Regions from separate parts of the Homo sapiens genome. Here all the other regions are linked to region 4. Evidence: fine-mapped expression QTL. A gene starts in region 4. Each other region holds a variant in brackets. All regions are shown on one strand. Distances are from middle to middle.

Evidence for each region. PIP is the estimated chance that this variant, and not a neighbour inherited with it, causes the effect. A credible set is the group of variants that fine-mapping cannot tell apart.
Region 1: its variant is the best candidate, but not a certain one, in a credible set for the expression of PXDN in nasal epithelium (TOPMed, PIP 0.69).
Region 2: its variant is the best candidate, but not a certain one, in a credible set for the expression of PXDN in whole blood (TOPMed, PIP 0.64).
Region 3: its variant is the best candidate, but not a certain one, in a credible set for the expression of PXDN in naive CD4 T cells (Schmiedel 2018, PIP 0.55).

What each region holds. Positions count from the first base shown.
Region 1 is chr2:1,702,635-1,706,634 of GRCh38, reverse strand. All of the region lies in intron 1 of PXDN (peroxidasin), which reads left to right. Among named protein-coding and RNA genes, the nearest start is that of PXDN, 40 kb to the left of the region's middle. RefSeq lists enhancers at 901-1,504, 1,505-2,108. The variant GCCCTCTGCTC/C (reference allele first, on the strand shown) is at 1,508.
Region 2 is chr2:1,718,962-1,722,961 of GRCh38, reverse strand. The region is part of intron 1 of PXDN (peroxidasin); the gene reads left to right. Among named protein-coding and RNA genes, the nearest start is that of PXDN, 24 kb to the left of the region's middle. The variant C/T (reference allele first, on the strand shown) is at 1,651.
Region 3 is chr2:1,808,452-1,814,171 of GRCh38, reverse strand. MYT1L (myelin transcription factor 1 like) reads left to right here. Exons shown (of 25, transcript NM_001303052.2): 22 at 5,005-5,096. Among named protein-coding and RNA genes, the nearest start is that of PXDN, 67 kb to the right of the region's middle. The variant C/T (reference allele first, on the strand shown) is at 3,317.
Region 4 is chr2:1,742,383-1,747,818 of GRCh38, reverse strand. PXDN (peroxidasin) reads left to right here and starts at 3,304. Exons shown (of 23, transcript NM_012293.3): 1 at 3,304-3,563. The coding sequence starts at 3,364.

The DNA of each region.
Region 1 (4,000 bases), 40 kb after region 4:
GTATTATTAGTGGGGCAGGCGATGCTTAGAGCTGATTGGTGAACACTGAAGCGTGCTCTCAGATTGTATTATTAGTGGGGCAGGTGATGTTTAGAGCTGATTGGTGAACACTGAAGCGTGCTCTCAGATTGTATTATTAGTGGGGCAGGTGATGCTTAGAGCTGATTGGTGAACACTGCAGCGTGCTCTCAGGTTGTATTATTAGTGGGGCAGGTGACTGGCTTCTGGCAATGCCAGCAGGATGTAAGATTCTGTGGCTTGCAGTGAGACCGTGTCCGATTTGTGACTTAAACAGTTGTTACTGCACTTGCTCCCTGGAGGACTTGATATCACATGGAGGCAGGACTGTGACCCAGTGAATACCAGGCTGCCAGTGGGACAGGGAAGCCCCACCCTCCCAGATAGATCTTTAGGTGCTGGACAGACCAGCTCCCAATTTCATAGAATAACCCGGGAGCTCCTAACTCTCACTGAAGGTCAGAGACGCTGGGACGGTCTCTGGGTTTGAGAGCCCAGGAATCGGAGGGCAGGGTAGAACTTGAATCTGGCATCCAGTCGGATCCAAGTTCTCGCTCTGACTGAGGTCTGGAGACCCTGAAGAAGCTGGATCAGAGAAGCCAGTAGCCTTGACGGTGTCCAAGCCACATGGATGCCTGAGCGGCAGGGCCTGGAGTGCCTGGGGGAGGCCGTAATGGACGGAGAACTGCTCCTTGTAGCCCCACACTCCACGCGGGAAACTCTCCAAAAGGGCTGGTGACACTCCACGCGTCCCAGGTCGTGGGCAGCCGTGCCCTGCACCCTGCGTCCCAGGTCATAGGCAGCCGCACCTGCATCCCAGGTCGTGGGGAGCTGCACCCTGCATCCTGTGTCCCAGGTCATGGGCAGCCGCACCTGCATCCCAGGTTGTGGGGAGCTGCACCCTGCACCCTGCATCCCAGGTCACGGGGAGCTGCACCCTGCACTCTGCACCCTGCGTCCCAGGTCACAGGGAGCTGCACCCTGCACCCTGCGTCCCAGGTCGTGGGGAGCCGCACCCTGCACCCTGCGTTCCAGGTCATGGGGAGCTGCATCCTGCACTCTGCGTCCCAGGTCGTGGGCAGCTGCACTCTGTACCCTGCATCCCAGGTCGTGGGGAGCCGCACCCTGCACCCTGTGTCCCAGGTCGTGGGCAGCTGCACCCTGCATCCCAGGTCATGGGGAGCTGCATCCTGCACCCTGTGTCCCAGGTCATGGGGAGCTGCACCCTGCACCCTGCATCCCAGGTCGTGGGGAGCCGCACCCTGCATCTGGGCTCATGGGGAGTGGCACATGGCTGCCTCCTACATTCACCCCTCCCAACCCCAGCCTTCATGGAGGGAGTGTCTTCAGTGGGTCATGTGGGTTTGGGAGTGAACTGAGCCGGTCTGCCTCTCCCTCAGGGGAGGCCCAGGGCCCCTGGGATGTGTGCAGACATGCTCTGCTCTCACGGCTCCGGGGAGGCCCAGGGCACTGGGATGTGTGCAGACGT[GCCCTCTGCTC/C]TCACGGCTCTCACGTGATGGGCAGTGCCGGGCGACATCAGGGTTGAGCTCTTAGTACTGTTGTCTTTTTTTCTGTAACTTCAGTTAATTTTTAGTTGGTTACTAACTAGCTCGTGTGTGCATCCTCTCATTACATCCTCAGAATACACTGACGGATGATGCATCATCTGCTCTTATTAATGTCATGTGATAATGGTTGCTCCCCAAGACTTGTATGAAAAGAAAGTAAGTCTTGGGACCCCCAAATCACTAAGTTAAAGGGAAGAGTCAAGCTGGGAACTGCTCAAGGCAAAGCTGCCTCCCATTGTATTCAAAGCCACCCTCTGCTCACCGAGACATGCATATCTGACTGCATCCCTTGGAAAAGATCATCAGAAACTCAAGACAGTGCAGCCATTTGTCTCTTATCTACCTGTGACCTGGAAGCTCCCTCCCCTCTTGGAGTTGCCCCCCCTTCACCTGGAGCTGCCCCCCCTTCACCTGGAGTTGTCCCCCCCTTTACCTGGAGCTGCCCCCCTTCACCTGGAGCTGTCCCCCCTTCACCTGGAGTTGCCCTCCCTTCACCTGGAGTTGCCCCCCTTCACCTGGAGTTGTCCCCCACCTTCACCTGGAGTTGCCCTCCTTCACCTGGAGTTGCCCCCCCCTTCACCTGGAGTTGCCCCCCTTCACCTGGAGTTGTCCCCTACCTTCACCTGGAGTTGCCCTCCTTCACCTGGAGTTGCCCCCCCCTTCACCTGGAGTTGCCCCCCCTTCACCTGGAGTTGTCCCTCTTTCACCTGGAGTTGTCCCCCGCTTCACCTGGAGTTGTCCTTCCTTCACCTGGAGCTGTCCCCCGCTTCACCTGGAGCTGTCCCCCCCTTCACCTGGAGTTGCCCCCCTTCACCTGGAGTTGCCCTCCCTTCACCTGGAGTTGTCCCCCACCTTCACCTGGAGTTGCCCTCCTTCACCTGGAGTTGCCCCCCCTTCACCTGGAGTTGCCCCCCTTCACCTGGAGCTGTCCCCCCTTCACCTGGAGTTGCCCTCCCTTCACCTGGAGTTGCCCCCCTTCACCTGGAGTTGCCCTCCCTTCACCTGGAGTTGCCCCCCTTCACCTGGAGTTGTCCCCTACCTTCACCTGGAGTTGCCCCCCCTTCACCTGGAGTTGTCCCCTACCTTCACCTGGAGTTGCCCTCCCTTCACCTGGAGTTGTCCCCCACCTTCACCTGGAGTTGCCCTCCTTCACCTGGAGTTGCCCCCCCTTCACCTGGAGTTGCCCCCCTTCACCTGGAGCTGTCCCCCCTTCACCTGGAGTTGCCCTCCCTTCACCTGGAGTTGCCCCCCTTCACCTGGAGTTGCCCTCCCTTCACCTGGAGTTGCCCCCCTTCACCTGGAGTTGCCCCCCCCTTCACCTGGAGTTGCCCCCCCTTCACCTGGAGCTGTCCCCCGCTTCACCTGGAGCTGTCCCCCCCTTCACCTGGAGTTGCCCCCCTTCACCTGGAGTTGCCCTCCCTTCACCTGGAGTTGCCCTCCCTTCACCTGGAGTTGCCCCCCCTTCACCTGGAGTTGTCCCCCACCTTCACCTGGAGCTGCCCCCCCTTCACCTGGAGCTGTCCCCCCTTCACCTGGAGTTGTCCCCCCTTCACCTGGAGTTGCCCCCCCTTCACCTGGAGTTGTCTCTCCTTCACCGGGAGTTGTCCCCCGCTTCACCTGGAGTTGTCCCTCCTTCACCTGGAGTTGTCCCTCCTTCACCTGGAGCTGTCCCCCACTTCACCTGGAGCTGTCCCCCCCTTCACCTGGAGTTGCCCTCCCTTCACCTGGAGTTGCCCCCCTTCACCTGGAGTTGTCCCCTACCTTCACCTGGAGTTGCCCCCTACCTTCACCTGGAGTTGCCCCCCCTTCACCAGGAGTTGCCCCCCCCTTCACCTGGAGTTGTCCCTCTTTCACCTGGAGTTGTCCCCCGCTTCACCTGGAGTTGTCCCTCCTTCACCTGGAGCTGTCCCCCCTTCACCTGGAGCTGTCCCCCCTTCACCTGGAGTTGTCCCCCCTTCACCTGGAGTTGCCCCCCTTCACCTGGAGCTGCCCTCCCTTCACCTGGAGCTGCCCCCCCTTCACCTGGAGCTGTCCCCCCTTCACCTGGAGTTGTCCCCCCCTTCACCTGGAGTTGTCCCGCCTTTCTAGACTGAACTAAATTCATCTTACATATATTGATTGATGTCTCGTGCCTCCCTAAAATGTATAAAACCAAGCACTTTGAGAGGCCGAGGTGCGTGGATCACCTGAGGTCAGGAGTTCGAGACCAGCTTGGCCAACTCGGTGAAACCTCATCTCTAAAAATACAAAAAATTAGCTGGGCGTAGTGGCGGGTGCCTGTAGTCCCAGCTACTCGGGAGGCTGAGGCAGGAGAATTGCTTGAACCTGGGAGACGGAGGTTGCAGTGAACCGAGATCACGCCAGTGCACTCCAGCCTGGGCGACAGAGCGAGACTCTGTCTCAAAACAAAACAA
Region 2 (4,000 bases), 24 kb after region 4:
CATACATCTCTCCATCTAGCTACCCACCCATTCACCCATCCATCCATCCCTCACTACTGGAATCACTGTGAAGTGTCCCACAGTGGTGACAGCAGCAGGCTGTCAGGTGCTTGTGGTCCAGAAGGGGTCAGGCTGTGAGGCACACCGTGCCCTGCAACACTGTGCCCCTGGAGCCACAGCCCTGTCCCTGCTTCCTCGTACCCCCCTCCCATATTTTAAGAATAGTGTTGGAAGCCTAGCTAGAGGGTTATAGAGAAGGAGATAGCTGTGGAAGGAGCCCCACCTGTAGACGCACACCTCTTTTCTCCTAAGTTCAGAATGCACTGATTTTAAAATACAACTTTCTTATATTTTTTGAGGGGAGGTTAGAGAAGCCTCCTTTGCTGGGAAGTTCCTCAGAGTTCTGTGTCTAGCAGTCTTTTTCAACTGGTTATTGAGAAAATAAAGCTCCAAAGAAAATGATTTGGGTGAATATGTTCCCAGTTCTTCTGAGGATCACAGCCAGCTAGAATCTGGATGCTGGGATAACCCATGCATTGCACGCAATGGATTCTGCGTTGAGATTCTCCTGTTCTCAATTTCTCATGGGAGAGGGACTGCCAAGCCACCAGGACTCTGAGGACTCAGTGCCGAGAGAGGAGACTGCGTCAGCATCACAGTCCTGGGGTGAGGGAACGGCCATGCTGGCTGCTGACCGGAATAACCTGAGGTAAAGTGAAGACGTCCACGTGGAGAGCTTTCAAGAGGGACTGCTTTGGCTTAATTTTATTCTTCTTACATGTTCTATTTTGTGTCCGCTCGCTCAGAAACTTCCTGATAGTTCATCTTCAGCCCATCCATTGTCAACACCTCTCGGGTTCATTATTTCTCGCTTAACTCTGTCTTGTGGTATTTTCTCATTTATAAAACTGTCTTATTTAGCACTTTAAAAAGCGTTTCCTCATTCACTCATCAGCTTGGCTTGCCTTTCTCGCCTTCCTAACAAGTGATGTGTATGTGGGAATTCCCCTAGGTTAGATCCCCTTTGAGTCTCTTAGTAACTATTTGGTATAAATATTTCTTGATTCCATTTTATGATTCATTTCCTCAGTGGAGGTCATTAAAGCACAGCCTGATTTGAGGCTTTTATTTATTTATTTATTTATTTTGAGACGGAGTCTCTCTCTGTCTCCCAGGCTGGAGTGCAGTGGCACTGCAAGCTCCACCTCCTGGGTTCACGCCATTCTCCTGCCTCAGTCTCCCAAGTAGCTGGGACTACAGGCGCTCGCCACCAAGCCCGGCTAATTTTTAGTAGAGACGGGGTTTCACTGTGTTAGCCAGTATGGTCTTGATCTCCTGACCTCGTGATCCGCCCGCCTCGGCCTCCCAAAGTGCTGGGATTACAGGCGTGAGCCACCGCACCCGGCCAATTTGAGGCTTTTAGAAAAGCAACAAGCAAAACTCAATCTGTTTCACTAGAGCCTGGAGTCAGTTACTTCCTGGGCTTGGTTTGTGAAGAGGGGCTTCCTGCCTGCTGGTTGGCTGAATCCTGGATGAATGCCCAGTGGGATTAACATGATTCATCCATTTGTTTTGCTCAACTCAAAGAGCACACTGGGTCTTTCTGAACAGGAACCACCTCAATTAACCCGTACCGTTGTTGAAACTATT[C/T]CCGTTCAGTTGTTTGAATTCTGACACTTCTAAGTTGGCTTCATCTCAGCTGCCTGCCACATTTGCACCTTCTAAGTGAAGGAGCCCCATCCTCAGCCACGCTGCCTGCCTGCCTGTGATGCTGAATTTTATGTCGACTTGGCTGGGCCACTGCACCCAGATATGTGCTGAGACATTATTCTGGATGTTTCTGTGAAGGGGTTTTTAGAGGACAGTAACATTTAAATCTGGAGACTTTGAGTAGAGCCGACTGTCCTCTGTGGTGTGGGTGGACCTCGTCCAGTTAGTTGAAGGCCTTAACGGAATAAAGGCTGACCTCCCCGGAGCAGGAGGGAATTCCACCAGCAGAGGCGGCTTTTGGACTGGAGCTGCAGCTACCATGCTTCCCCGGGGCTGTAGCATCAGTAAGCGGCCAGCATGAGGACTGCTGTCCTGGGTCAGGCGCCCACCCAGGTCCAACCAGCTGCGGTCCGGGAGGACCAGGTCATGTGACACACATTGCGAACACTGGGTTGGTCAGGGTTCTCCAGAGAAATGGAAACCACAGGATATGTGTACGTGTGTGTGTGTGTGTGTGTGTGTGTGTGAGAGAGAGAGAGAGAGAAAGAGATGCAGAGAGAGAGAGAAAGAGATGCAGAGAGAAAGAGATGCAGAGAGAGAGAAAGAGATGCAGAGAGAGAGAAAGAGATGCAGAGAGAGCTGTATCTGAGAGGCAAAGGTGGTCGGCTGCCTCCCCAGGCTCTGGTCTGGAGCAGGTGGTGTGAGAAAGCGTGGAGCGAGGCACTCCCTGCAGACTCTGGACTTGCCAAGCCACCACCATCTCAGCCAGCTCCTTAAAATACACCTCCCTTCTGCCTCTCTTCTCACCTTCAACCCCACCTCTCTCTCTGCATCCCTCCCTCTCTCTGTGCATCTCTCTCTCTGCATCCCTCCCCTCCCTCTCTCTCTGCATCCCTCCCTCTCTCTGCATCCCTCCCTCTCTCTGTGCATCTCTCTCTCTCTGCATCCCTCCCTCCCTCTCTCTCTCTCTGCATCCCTCCCTCTCTCTCTCTCTCTCTGCATCCCTCCCTCCCTCTCTCTCTCTCTGCATCCCTCCCTCTCTCTGCATCCCTCCCTCTCTCTGTGCATCTCTCTCTCTCTGCATCCCTCCCTCCCTCTCTCTCTCTCTGCATTCTTCCCTCCCTCTCTCTCTGCATCCCTCCCTCCCTCTCTCTCTGCATCCCTCCCTCCCTCTCTCTCTGCATCCCTCCCTCCCTCTCTCTCTCTCTGCATCCCTCCCTCTCTCTCTCTCTCTCTCTACATCCCTCCCCTCCCTCTCTCTCTGCATCCCTCCCTCTCTCTGTGCATCTCCCTCTCTCTGCATCCCTCCCTCTCTCTCTCTCCCTCTCTGCATCCCTCCCTCCCTCTCTCTCTGAATCTCCCTCCCTCTCTCTCTTTCACACACACACACACACACACACACACACACACACACACAATGCACGCATGTACACACATCCTGTGGTCTCCATTTCTCTGGAGAACCCTGACCAATCCAGTGTTCACGATGTGTGTCACATGACCTGGTCCTCCTGGACCGCAGCTGGTTGGAACCGGGTGGGCGCCTGACCCAGGACAGTGGTCCATGTGCTAGTCACTGATGGTCAGGCTTAGCCCAGCCAGTGCTGTCTCCTGAGAACTTGAACTTGAAAATGTTCAGGGATTAACAGCTGGCCGTGGGGGCTGAAACTGGAGGACTGTGGTGAGAATCCAGAGAGGCCCTGGAGGCCGCTGTTAGAGGCACAGGGGTGCTAGGGAGCCAAGCAGGCAGGTCGGCGGGGACCGGCGAGGAGTTCGATGCCTCCTGCAAGGCCAGTGTCCCCTCTTAGGTTCCATGTACCCTCAAGGCACACAGGCTTTGTGTGGTTTATGTAAGGATTCGTGCTGGGGAGAGGACCCTGAGCAGGGGCACAGACCCAGGAGGGCCTGGGACAGAGCCTGGCTGGGTTGGGTGCTGCCGGCTGCTGCCTGGGGAGGGCCTTTCTCCATGGGGTGTCCTCTTAGGGGATTGCCAGGCTGTGGCTGAGGGGTGAAGGTGGGTGGCTGCCTCCCCTGGCTCTGTTCCCACACGGGGAGCAGGTGGTGTGAGAAGGTGTGGAGCAAGCCCCCTTCCGAGTAACTCAGGTGGGAGGCATGGCCGCAGGGCCCCAGGCTGGCTCGCTCGTCTAAGGAGCCATGACTGCGCCAGTGCAGCCAGCCCCTGGCCCCTGGCGTCTCAGCTCGGCTGCTGTGCCCGGTGTTTGCCTTTGCAGGGACCTTGCGTGGCTGTCAGCGTGTCCTGGGTGTGCCCCTCACATGCCATCTGCGAGGT
Region 3 (5,720 bases), 66 kb before region 4:
GGGGAATTCGTGAGTGGACAGCGGGAGGCAGCACGTGTGAGAAGAGCCCGTCGCAAAGGCCATCTAGGACAGCGGCCCCCAACCTTTTGGCACAAGGGACCGGTTTCATGGAAGCTAATTTTTCTTTCTTTTTTTTTTTTTTTTGGGGACGGAGTCTCGCTCTGTCGCCCAGGCTGGAGTGCAGTGGCGCGATCTCGGCTCACTGCAAGCTCCGCCTCCCGGGTTCGCGCCATTCTCCTGCCTCAGCCTCCCGAGTAGCTGGGACTACAGGCGCCCGCTACCACGCCCGGCTAATTTTTTGTATTTCTAGTACAGACGGGGTTTCACCGTGTTAGCCAGGATGGTCTCGATCTCCTGACCGCGTGATCCGCCCGCCTCGGCCTCCCAAAGTGCTGGGATTACAGGCGTGAGCCACCGCGCCCGGCCGGAAGCTAATTTTTCTACAGAAAAGGGGTGGGATGGTTTCTGGATGAAACCGTTCCACCTGGGATCACCAGGATTAACTTCTAAGGAGCCCGCAGCCCGGACCCCCTCGCAGGCGCAGTTCTCAGTAGCGTTTGCGCTCCTGGGAGAATCGAATCCCGCCGCTGACGTGTCGGGAGGCGGAGCTCAGGTGAGAATGCTCGCCCGCCCACTGCCCACCTCCACCTGTACGGCCCGGTTCCTCACAGGCCACGGCCGGGAGTTTGGGGACCCCTGCTCTAGGAAATATTCCAGCATCGGCAGCTGCTCTCAGAGAAGCTGCTGGAAGCTCTCCTGGGGGAGTGGGGGCAATCACAGCTGTGCCCCTGGGGCCATTTCTCAGCTGTGGGATGGAACGGATGGGACCCAGGCTGAGGCCCAGGGGCCTCGCTGAGGGAGAAAGAAGCACAGACCTGGACTGAAGTGATGAAGAGAAGGGAGGGGGTTCAGGCGCAAACAGCAGAGGCTGCTCGCTGGGAGGACGGCAAGGAGGAGGAGGCGTGCCTTTGTGGCCCTCCCTCTCTCCCCCCCACCTGCAGCTCCTGGCCCCTCAATGCCATTCGCAAACACAGGGAAAGTCGAAAGGGCTGCGGAGGTTCAGACGGCGGAAGGCCAGAGAGGTTCAGCGGGGGAAAGATGGGAGCTGCTCCCTGCATTTGTGAGGATCATACTGAGCCGGGCTGGGCCACACGCACCGTGGACCGACCAGGCGTCACCCTTGTCCTACAGTCACAGTCTTAGGACCTCTGCAGGAGGCCCTCACCCCAGCCCTCCTCTCATCTTAACCCAGGGCGGCAGCTGCATTCAAGAGTCTTTTTTTTTTTTTTTTTTTTTGAGACGGAGTCCTGCTCTGTCACCCAGGCTGGAGTGCAGCAGTGCGATCTCGGCTCACTGCAACCTCTGCCTCCCGGGTTCAAGAGATTCTCCTGCCTCAGCCTCCCAAGTAGCTGGGATTATAGGCACCTGCCACCACGCCCAGCTAATTTTTGTATTTTTAGTAGAGACAGGGTTTCACCATGTTGGCCAGGCTGGTCTGGAACTCCTGACCTCATGATCTGTCCGCCTCGGCCTCACAAAGTGCTAGGATTACAGGCATGAACCACCGCGCCCGGCTAAGAGTCTTCTCTTAACTTGGAAGTCCTGCAAAATCCTGCCGCAGGCCTCTTTGAGGGCTCAGTCTGCACCTTCCAGAGCCTGGGTGCACTCACACTCACCCTGGGCCTCCACTCACTGAGCCATCACAAAGTGCATTCAGACATTTTATGCTTTCAGAAGTCGTCACTGGGCACCTATTCCATCTCCAGCACTCTCCCATCATGGGGATACAGAGCAGTGAACAAAAAAGTGCATTTTAATCCTTGCCCTCAAGAATACACATTCTTTTCATTAAACTTCACAAACACAGTCAATTCAATATTTTATTCTCATTTCATAAGTGAGCAAACAGGACTGCCTAAGTCTTTCCTAGCCAGTTCCACGTCTTATGTGCGTTAGAGCATCAGGGGGTGCGGTGTGAGGTCCAGTGGGCCTCCTGGTCTCACAAAGGACTTGCCAGATGTAGTCACCTGACTGCAGAGTCTACCTGGATGCGGGGGCCAAAGCGCAGACACACCTGCAGGAAGATGTGTGTGACAGCCACAGTGTGTCCAGTGGCAGGAAGGGGAAAAGTGGCGTTAACATCCAAGCATCCTATTTTAGGAGAGCCTTAACAGATCTTTTGAGAACTTCTTATTTTACAAATGAAAATATCCAGCTCGCCTTCAGAAGCAGATTTACGGATAAGCTAGGGAAGCAGAAGTGTCAGCCCCCACCCCAGCCGGATTTGCAGGGCGTCCTGCTGGGATCTGATGGGGAGGCAGGAGAAGACCCAGGAGGGTGCCCCGGAGTGGGGACGACTGCCAGGTTGTTGCCCAGGCCCCATCAGGGAGGACTGAAGAGGAGCCTGTTCCCTCCGGAACGCGAGGGGTTCGTTCACGCCCCACACTAAAGACAGCTTGAGTAGCACAGGGATTTCCGGTGTAAACAGCAGCAGGCAGGGTGAGAGGATCCATCAGAAGCAGCAGTGCCAATGTCTAGTAACAAATAAATGAACAAAAAAACAGCAAAGGGAACCACGAGCCAGGACCCCCTCAGGGACTGTCCGGATTCCTGGGGATGCAGTCAGGGCAAGCAGGAGAAGCCAGGGCGCCCACCGTGCCCACCCTGTCAGGCCACCCAGTTCCCAGAGGCCTCTCTGCTCCTGGGGCTTCCCGTGCGGCTTGCCCTGGGATGGGATAGGACGCGGGAGCTGATGATGCTGGAGCTGATGACGCCAGAGCTGATGACGCCAGAGCTGATGATGCTGGAGCTGATGACGCTGGGGTTAAAGTCCCCGCTGCTCCTTCTCCCACTGAACCTAGGAACATCATCAGCAAACACAGCAGTTCACAGCCACAGAGTTGTGGTATGAGCAACAAATACTGGTGATTGTCTTAGACGTTCCAGGGCTGCAAAAACAAATACCATACCTTGGGCAGCATAGAAACCAGAAATTTATTCCTCCAAGTTCTGGAGACTGGAAGTCCGAGACCGAGGCACCAGCAGATTCGGCATCTGGCAACTGCTGCTCTCTGGTTGGTGGACGACGCCTTCTCACTCTGTCCTCACATGGGAGAAGGGGTTAAGGAGCTGTCTGGGTCCCTGTTATAAGGGCACGGATCCCATCACGAGGCCTCCTCACTTCCCATACGCCCCTTCTCCTAACACCATCCCGGTGGGGGTCAGGATTTCAGTGCACGAGTTTTCAGGGGACACAGTCAGGCAACAGCAATGATTATTTAGAATTTTATGAATATTCTATTATAATTATGAGATG[C/T]AAACATCACATCAAAAAAATAACAACTTAGACCTGTGGTGTGGATGAAGAATACTGGAAATATTTTTATACAAAGATAGGATTTCCCCAAAAACAACCACTAATATCCCCAGTTGAAAATGTATTACGATCAAGTTCTTCTGCTATGAATTTTCCTGTTTTCTTAAATTTTAAAAGAAAATGTATTACAAAAATAATATTTAGAAAGCTTAATTATATTAATGCAGATATTAGAGATATTTCTAATAATGATGTAATCTGCCTGCACTAGTAAAGAGTGTTTCTAGATATATCACTAACACATCATCACACCACTTACGGACACGGTCCATCTAACACTTCATATACAGGTGAAATACAATATTATGTATAGAGAGAATAAACACATATGTCATATACATATATAAAACATTATAGGCGGGGTGCGGTGGCTCATGCCTGTAATCCTAGCACTTTGGGAGGCCAAGGCGGGCAGATCACCTGAGGTCAGGAGTTGAAGACCAGCCTGGCCAATATGGTGAAACCCTGTCTCTACTAAAAATACAAAAATTAGCCAGGTGTGGTGGCACACACCTGTAATCCCAGAGGCTATAATTCTGTAATCGGGAGGCTGAGGCGGGAGAATCACTGGAACCCAGGAGGCAGAGGCTGCAGTGAGCCGACATCGGGCCACTGCACTCCAGCCTGGGTGACAGAGCAAGACCCTCTCAAAAAAAAAAAAAAAAAGCGTTATATATAGAAGTTTTTCACCTCACCCATAGTTAAGTGCCAGATGGCCCCTGGCCTTTAGCACAGTGAGGACTCCAGTTGACCAGCACGTCCAGGAGCCCCTGGAAGGGAGGGAAGGCCCCTCGGAGACTGAGGAGTTGTGAGGAAGCCGAGGCACGGGACTGCATGGAAGAGGCGCTCCGCACACAGGACACGCCATCTTCAGCAAACACCCAACAGGACAGAAAAGGAGGCAGAGGTGCCTTCCTGCCCCGGAGGCTGCCAGCCACATCTGCCACATACACTGTGAAGAGCTGAGACGCATCCTGACGTCGACAAACCAGTGGCTGAGAAAAGTGAAGAGACACCTGGAAAGTTTGAAAACAGACTGAATAGCTGCTGATACTAGAAAACTGGCTAAAAATTGTAAGTGAGATAAGGAGATTGCAGTTATGTTTTCACCTTTGAGACTGGGGAAGCAGGAGGGGCACAGGTGACTAGCCTTGAGAGATAACAGCTGAATTTGGGGTGAGTTCATTATTCTGCTGTCTCTACTTTTGTATATTTGAAATTAACTTTTAAACCCAACCTTTCTATGAGCTTGATGCTTTCCATAATAAAGATTTTTAAGCAATATTATCACTCTACAAAAGTTCCAAAAAGCTCTGAAAGTTATACAATGAAGGGCAGATTTCCTCTGCTCTCAGAGCCCCAGCTCCCAAGACCCCCCGCCAAGAGGCAGCCCCAGCCGAGCACCCATGATCAGTGCTCACCACATGCATGAGTGCACACACATGCACCCCATGTGTGCATAACTGTCATACTGTATGCATTGGTCTTTTTGCTTTTTCTCATTTTCAGACAGCCTTTTGCTGGCAACCAACCTAATAATGCTATTCTACGCCTTGCTTACCACCACTTCCCTGCAGGGCTGGGACATTAGACAGTTGACTAATGGCCGTCCTGTGTCTTGTCCACAGCTTGTCAGGATGCCCGAGAGCCACGTCAGCGATGAAGAAGGCAAAGCTTTCTGGAGAGCAGATGCTGACCATCAAACAGCGGGCCAGCAACGGTGAGCACCCCTCCAGCCCTCGTGGCACCCATGGTCAGGAAGGCCCAGCGGGCACGGCCATGCCAGCTGTGTGTCCTTTGACAGTTACAGCTCACTTTTCTTAGAAAGCAGGGGCAGAGATAATTCTGGCCCTCTCATCTATAAAGCGAAGCAACTTGAGAAAAAGCAGTCTTTCTCAAAACCGTCTCCCACCTTCACCGATTTCACTGCTCACCGGAATCATGAGCCCAAGTCCTGAGGGTCTCTCCAGCACTGGACGATTTACTCCCTGGAACCCCAGTGTGCCCACATTTCTGCCTGTGTCCCTCAGGCCCTCATCCAGGGTTTCTCCACCCAGGAGCAGCTTTGGGGCCACCCCAGGCCACAGATAACAAGGATGGCACCCCCTCCCCTGTCGCCCTCACTCTCTGCATGTCTGGTGCCTGATTTTCTTGATTCCACCTGCAAATCTGTTTTGTTCTGAGGGTCTCTCTTGTCACCAACCAGCACAGGTGTGTAGAGAGTTCTGCAGAGGAAAACTGGGGGCCTCTGGAGGAGCAGGAGAGAGGAGAGCCACTTAAGCCCTTAGAAACATCCACAGTCCACCCTCATGATCTGGGGACTCTATTTGCGAGGTCACCTCCC
Region 4 (5,436 bases):
CTCCCAGTTGATGCTCTGCTGTGGCATGTGCTGGACGCAAGAGCATCTGTGGATGGAATCCAGCAGGAGAGATGGCGTCCAGTGTGAGCTGGAACAACAGGAGGGTGTGGAGAGGATCCAGGAGGAGTGATGGCATCTGCATCTGGACCCACTGGTGTGTGTGCACAGGATCCTGCGGGGTGATGGCTGAACCCACTGGCGTGTGTGCACAGGATCCTGCGGGGTGATGGCTGAACTCACTGGAGTGTGTGCACAGGATCCTGCAGGGGTGATGGCACCCGGAGTCTAATCTGAACCCACTGGAGTGTGTGCACAGGATCCCGCAGGGGCGATGGCACCCGGAGTCTGAAATGAATCCTCTGGAGTGCGTGGACAGGACCCTGCAGGGGTGATGGCATCGGAATCTGAACTAAACCCACTCGAATGTGTGCGCAGGATCCCGCAGGGGCGATGGCACCCGGAGTCTAATCTGAACCCACTGGAGAGTGTGCGCAGGATCCCGCAGGGGCGATGGCATATGGAGTTTCAGCTGGACCTACTCGAGTGTGTGGATAGAATCTTGCAGGAGAGACGACATGTAGAATGTAAACTGGACTGAGTGGAGTGTATGGAGAGAATCCTGCAGGTGAGATGGCGTGTGCAGTGGGAAGCGGACCCACTGGAATCTTTGGGTGGGACCCAAACTCAACCACTGCTATGTGTAGACAGGATCTTTGAGGAGAGATGGCATCTGCAGTGTGAACCGAACCCACTGGAGTGTATGGATAGCATCTTGCAGGAGTGATGACATCTGCAGTGTGATCTGGACTGCCTCGAGTGTGTGGGTAGGATCCTGCAAGAGTGATGGCATGTGGAGTGAGCACTGCATCCACAGGACTGTGTGGACAGCAGCCTTCAGCAGTGATGATGTCTGCTGTGTGAAGTGGAGCACTGTAGTGTGTGGGTAGGGTCCTGCAGGAGAGATGGCAACTGGAGTGTGAACTGCACCCACTTGAGTGAGAGGTTGGGATGCTGCAGGTGGATGGCATTTGGAGTGTGAACTGGACCCACTTGAGTGTATGGGTAGGGTCCTGCAGGAGAGATGGCAACTGGAGTGTGAACTGGACCCACTGTTGTGCCTGGAGAGGATCCTGCAGAAGACAAGGCATCTGCAGTGTAAACTGGGCCACTGGGGTGTGTAGCTAGAATCATGCTGGAGTAACGGCTTCTGGACTGTGAGCTGGCCCCATTAAAGTGTGTGTATAGGATCCTGCAAAAGTGATAGCCTCTGGAGTGTGAATGGGACCCACTGAGGTGTGTGGATAGGATACTGCAGGGGTGATGGTGTCTGCAGTGTGAGCTGCAGCCCTGGGGCATGTGGATAGGACTCTGCAAAGAGACAGCATCTGTGGTGTGAATGGCACCGGTGGAATGTGTAGAGAGGATCCTGCAAAAGTGATGTCCTCTAGAGTGTGAACTGGACCCACTGGAGGGTGTGGACATCGTCCTGCAGGAGAGATGGCATCTAGAGTGTGAATGGCACCTCCGGAGTGTGTGGATAGGAGCCCGCAGGAGAGAGCACATGTAGAGCGTGAACTGGACCCACTGAAATGTGTGGACAGGATTCTGCAGAAGATACGGCATCCGGAGTGTGAAATGCACCACTAGTGTGTGTGCATAGAATCCTGCATAAGTTTTGGCATCTACAGTGTGAACTGGAGTCACTGGAATGTGTGAATAGGATCTTGCAGGAGAGATGTCTGCAGTGTGAGCTGGACCCACTTCTGTGTGTGGATAGTATCCTGCAGGAGAGATGTTGTCTGCAGTGTGAGCTGGGCCCACCGGAGTGTGTGAATAGGATCCTGCAGGAGAAATGGAATCCGGAGTGTGAGCTGCATCCGCTGTAGAGGGTGGATAAAATCCTGCAGGAAAGATGGCATCTGGAATGTCAGCGGGAGCCACCGACCTCTGAGGATGCACCCCGCAGGTGTGATGCGGGGCCAGTTCCAAGGCTGGGTTAGGTTTTACCCTGGCTTCTGTGTTGTACTCTCATTCTCTTCCTCTTTCTTCTAATACCTGCTCTGGGAGGCATCAGGCCATGTCCAGTGTGCAGGCCATGGAGACCCACACGGCAAGGAACTGGAACCCCCTGCCAGCAGCCTCGGGGGTCCAGTCCTTAGATGGTGCCCTGTGGTCAGCAATGCACCTGTGACCTCCGGGCTATGTCTCGTGGTAGTTGCTTTTGTGTTTTAACATAGCAACAGGAAACTAGCCTATTACCCACCAATCCCATTCCAGGCTGCTTTCAAACGCAGCTCAGGCTAGAACACCAGCACGGGGACACAGCTGAGACTTGGGGTTTGCGACGGGAACACGCCCATGCTGTGCCTCTGAATCTGGCACCGTCACCCTGTGGCCTGGGTTCAGCAACTTGGCCTCACCTTCCTTGTCTGTGAAATTCAGACTGGGTCCTTGTGAGATGATTGGAGAGAATGTATGAACTATGTGAGAACGCCACCTTTGTGCGTATCTCACGCAGTGTCTTCCCTCCTTTCCAAAGTCTTCTGCTGTCTCTAGACACACCCGACGTGGGGGGGGGGGGTTCCCTGGGTCTCCTCCTAGGTCTGTCCCAGGAGGGCACGCACTGAAGGCCGCGAGAATCCCGGGGGCTGCATTGCGCCGCGCCAAGGACTCCACACAGGACCTTTCATTTTCCCAACTGTGCTGAGCCAGGCGGCCGGCAGAGAGCAGGTGGCTGACAGGCCCCGGGGAGCCGGACCGCCTGGGTCTAATCTTCCCGCAGACTCCCTTGCTGTGCGCTTTGGGGCTTGGGCCTCAGTTTCCTCAAAAGGAATGAGGGGCTTTTTTGGAACGTTAAATAATTTCCTACGTGGTTGCGGGTAGGGAGAAGGAGAAAGAGAGGAGCGCGCCTGCGCGCCTGGAATCGTGCCCGGATCAGAGCAAGCGCTCTAAAAGTGTTACAAACATTAAGGCGCCAACTAAAAAACCCGTAGTGAGCGCAGGCAGAAACCACGGGTAAGAGAAGTGGAGAAGCTTCGCGTAGGCCCCAGGGTCCCGAGCCCCGAGTCTCGAGCGCAGAATCAGGGGTGCCAATGCTCTCCTCCGCGCCCCCGAGCGCTCGCCTTGGCCATGCGGGCCGCCCCACCGGGATGAGGGCGCTCAGGCCGGACGCTGGGGCCCCGGGTTCTCGCCCCGCCCCGCCCTCGGGGATTCAGAGGGGCCGGGAGGAGCCTCGCGCATGTGCACAGCTGGCGCCCCCCGCCCCCCGCGCACAGCTGGGACGTGGGCCGCGGCCGGGCGGGCGCAGTCGGGAGCCGGCCGTGGTGGCTCCGTGCGTCCGAGCGTCCGTCCGCGCCGTCGGCCATGGCCAAGCGCTCCAGGGGCCCCGGGCGCCGCTGCCTGTTGGCGCTCGTGCTGTTCTGCGCCTGGGGGACGCTGGCCGTGGTGGCCCAGAAGCCGGGCGCAGGGTGTCCGAGCCGCTGCCTGTGCTTCCGCACCACCGTGCGCTGCATGCATCTGCTGCTGGAGGCCGTGCCCGCCGTGGCGCCGCAGACCTCCATCCTGTGAGTGCCGCGGGGGACGCCGGGGGCGCGGGGTCCGGGGCTTCGTGGAGATCCGGGAGCGCAGGGGTGATCGGAGGTGGGGGGCGCGGAGGGTGGAGGGGGCATCGGGCGCGCGGGGGGCCTGGGGACTTGGGACGCAGAAGGGAACCTCCGAAGGGGGACGTGGGGGGACCTGGGCGCGGGGACCCGCTGGGCCTTTGTTCGCCCTGCGGGAGACGCCGAGGGGCGGAACAGAGCGCTGTGCGCGCGGCCTTCGTAGCCGCCTTTGTTCGGAACTCGGAATCCCCGCAGGACTGGGAAGTTGTTGGAGCCTCCGGGGCTCCCCCCGCTCGCCTCCCGCCGCCCCCTCTCATGCTCCGCCGGCCTCCCGCTTCCCCCTGGTTCGCGGCCCCTCCTCCGCTCACCTTTCCCCCGCTCAGGACCCCTCGGTCCCCCTCCGCTCCCCGAGCGCGGCGCAGCCCCCTCCGTCCTCCCAGCCCCCTCCGCCCCGTTCCTCGTCCTGTTCGCTCCCCTCCTCCGCTCCTCTTCCTCCTCCCCTTCCTCCTCCTCCTCCCCTTCCTCCTCCTCCTCCCCTTCCTCCTCCTCCTCCCTTCCCCTCCTCCTCCCCCCCTTCCTTCTCCTCCCCCAGCCTCCGCCCTCTCCCCCTCCCCCGCCCCTTGGAGCGCAGTGCCCACCCCATCCCCCCGCGCCGGGGAAGCCTCCCCAGAGGAGCCTCAGTTCCCGCAGCCGCGGCGCCCCCGCTCCCAGTGCCCCCGCATCTGCCCGGAGCGTCCTCTCCTGGGGTGTCCTGGGGGCCCCGCGCTTCTCAGGGGCTTTTCCTGCGCCCGGAGCGAGCCGGGCGGCCGGGGTTCCCGAGAGGGGCCGCGCGGTAGTCTCGGGGCAGCCCGGGTCTAGATGGAGCCGGGACTCAGAGCGGGTTTCTGCCTCGGGCATTTCTCTTCTTTCGCTTCTAATCCACGCGAGCGTGTTCGCAGTTGCGCTATACGTTTAACCGGATGCGTTGCGTTGGGGTTGACACCCTGTCCTGCGGGCCGTCCCGCGTCACGGTCTCCACAGCAGGAATCCCCATCCCTCCGCCCCGCGGCTCCAGGTACCGAGATGCCGCCAGAGTTCGCTGCAGGCCTCCTGTGTTCTGAAGCGAGTCGGATTCAACATTTTCGGGATCTGTGAACGCGGGCTGCGTTTCAGGCGCCGACTCTAATTTAGTCCTGTAGCGACTTTTCTGCATGCCAAAAATAGTTTTCACGTTTCTTAGCTGAGCCAGAGGACTTTTTGGCACCAGCAAAGAGTCTGCAAAAGTTGTAAAAAAATTGAGTGAACAATTCAGGAAGTGGGCGGCCAGTGCGCCTACCTCCGAAACAAAGTGCTGGGACAGACCACGGCTCCCAGGGGTCGCCGAGTTTGCAGGCTGCTTCCTGGAGGCCCTGGGGCGGGGCGGGGGCCCGAGTTCCTCTCCTCCTCCGCAGAGAGACCAAGGCTTTCTTTCCAGAGCCCGTGAATGGTCAGCCCAGGCCGGACGACTCGGGGGCATCTCACTCAACAGCAGTGGACTTTTAGAATGGAGCCGGGTGAGGTTTCCCTGGGTCTGGATAATGTAATTCTTGCTGAGCCAGTGGAAAAATGGCACCTCAAAGATTTTTCCCATCTGGTCAGTTTCATAAAGCTTGCGGTATGTTTTGCCCCGGAATATTAATTGCTTGTTGAAAATAACATGTTAAAATAAGTGTCGTAGGACACACATGGGGTCCTCTGCTCCGCTTTGCATGGTGTGCTCGTCCACAAACGCCTCACCGAATTTGAAAAAGGAGCTGAGAGTAGACGGGTGACATCATCGTCCACTCGCACAACACTTCCTCATAGGGTACATTTGCAT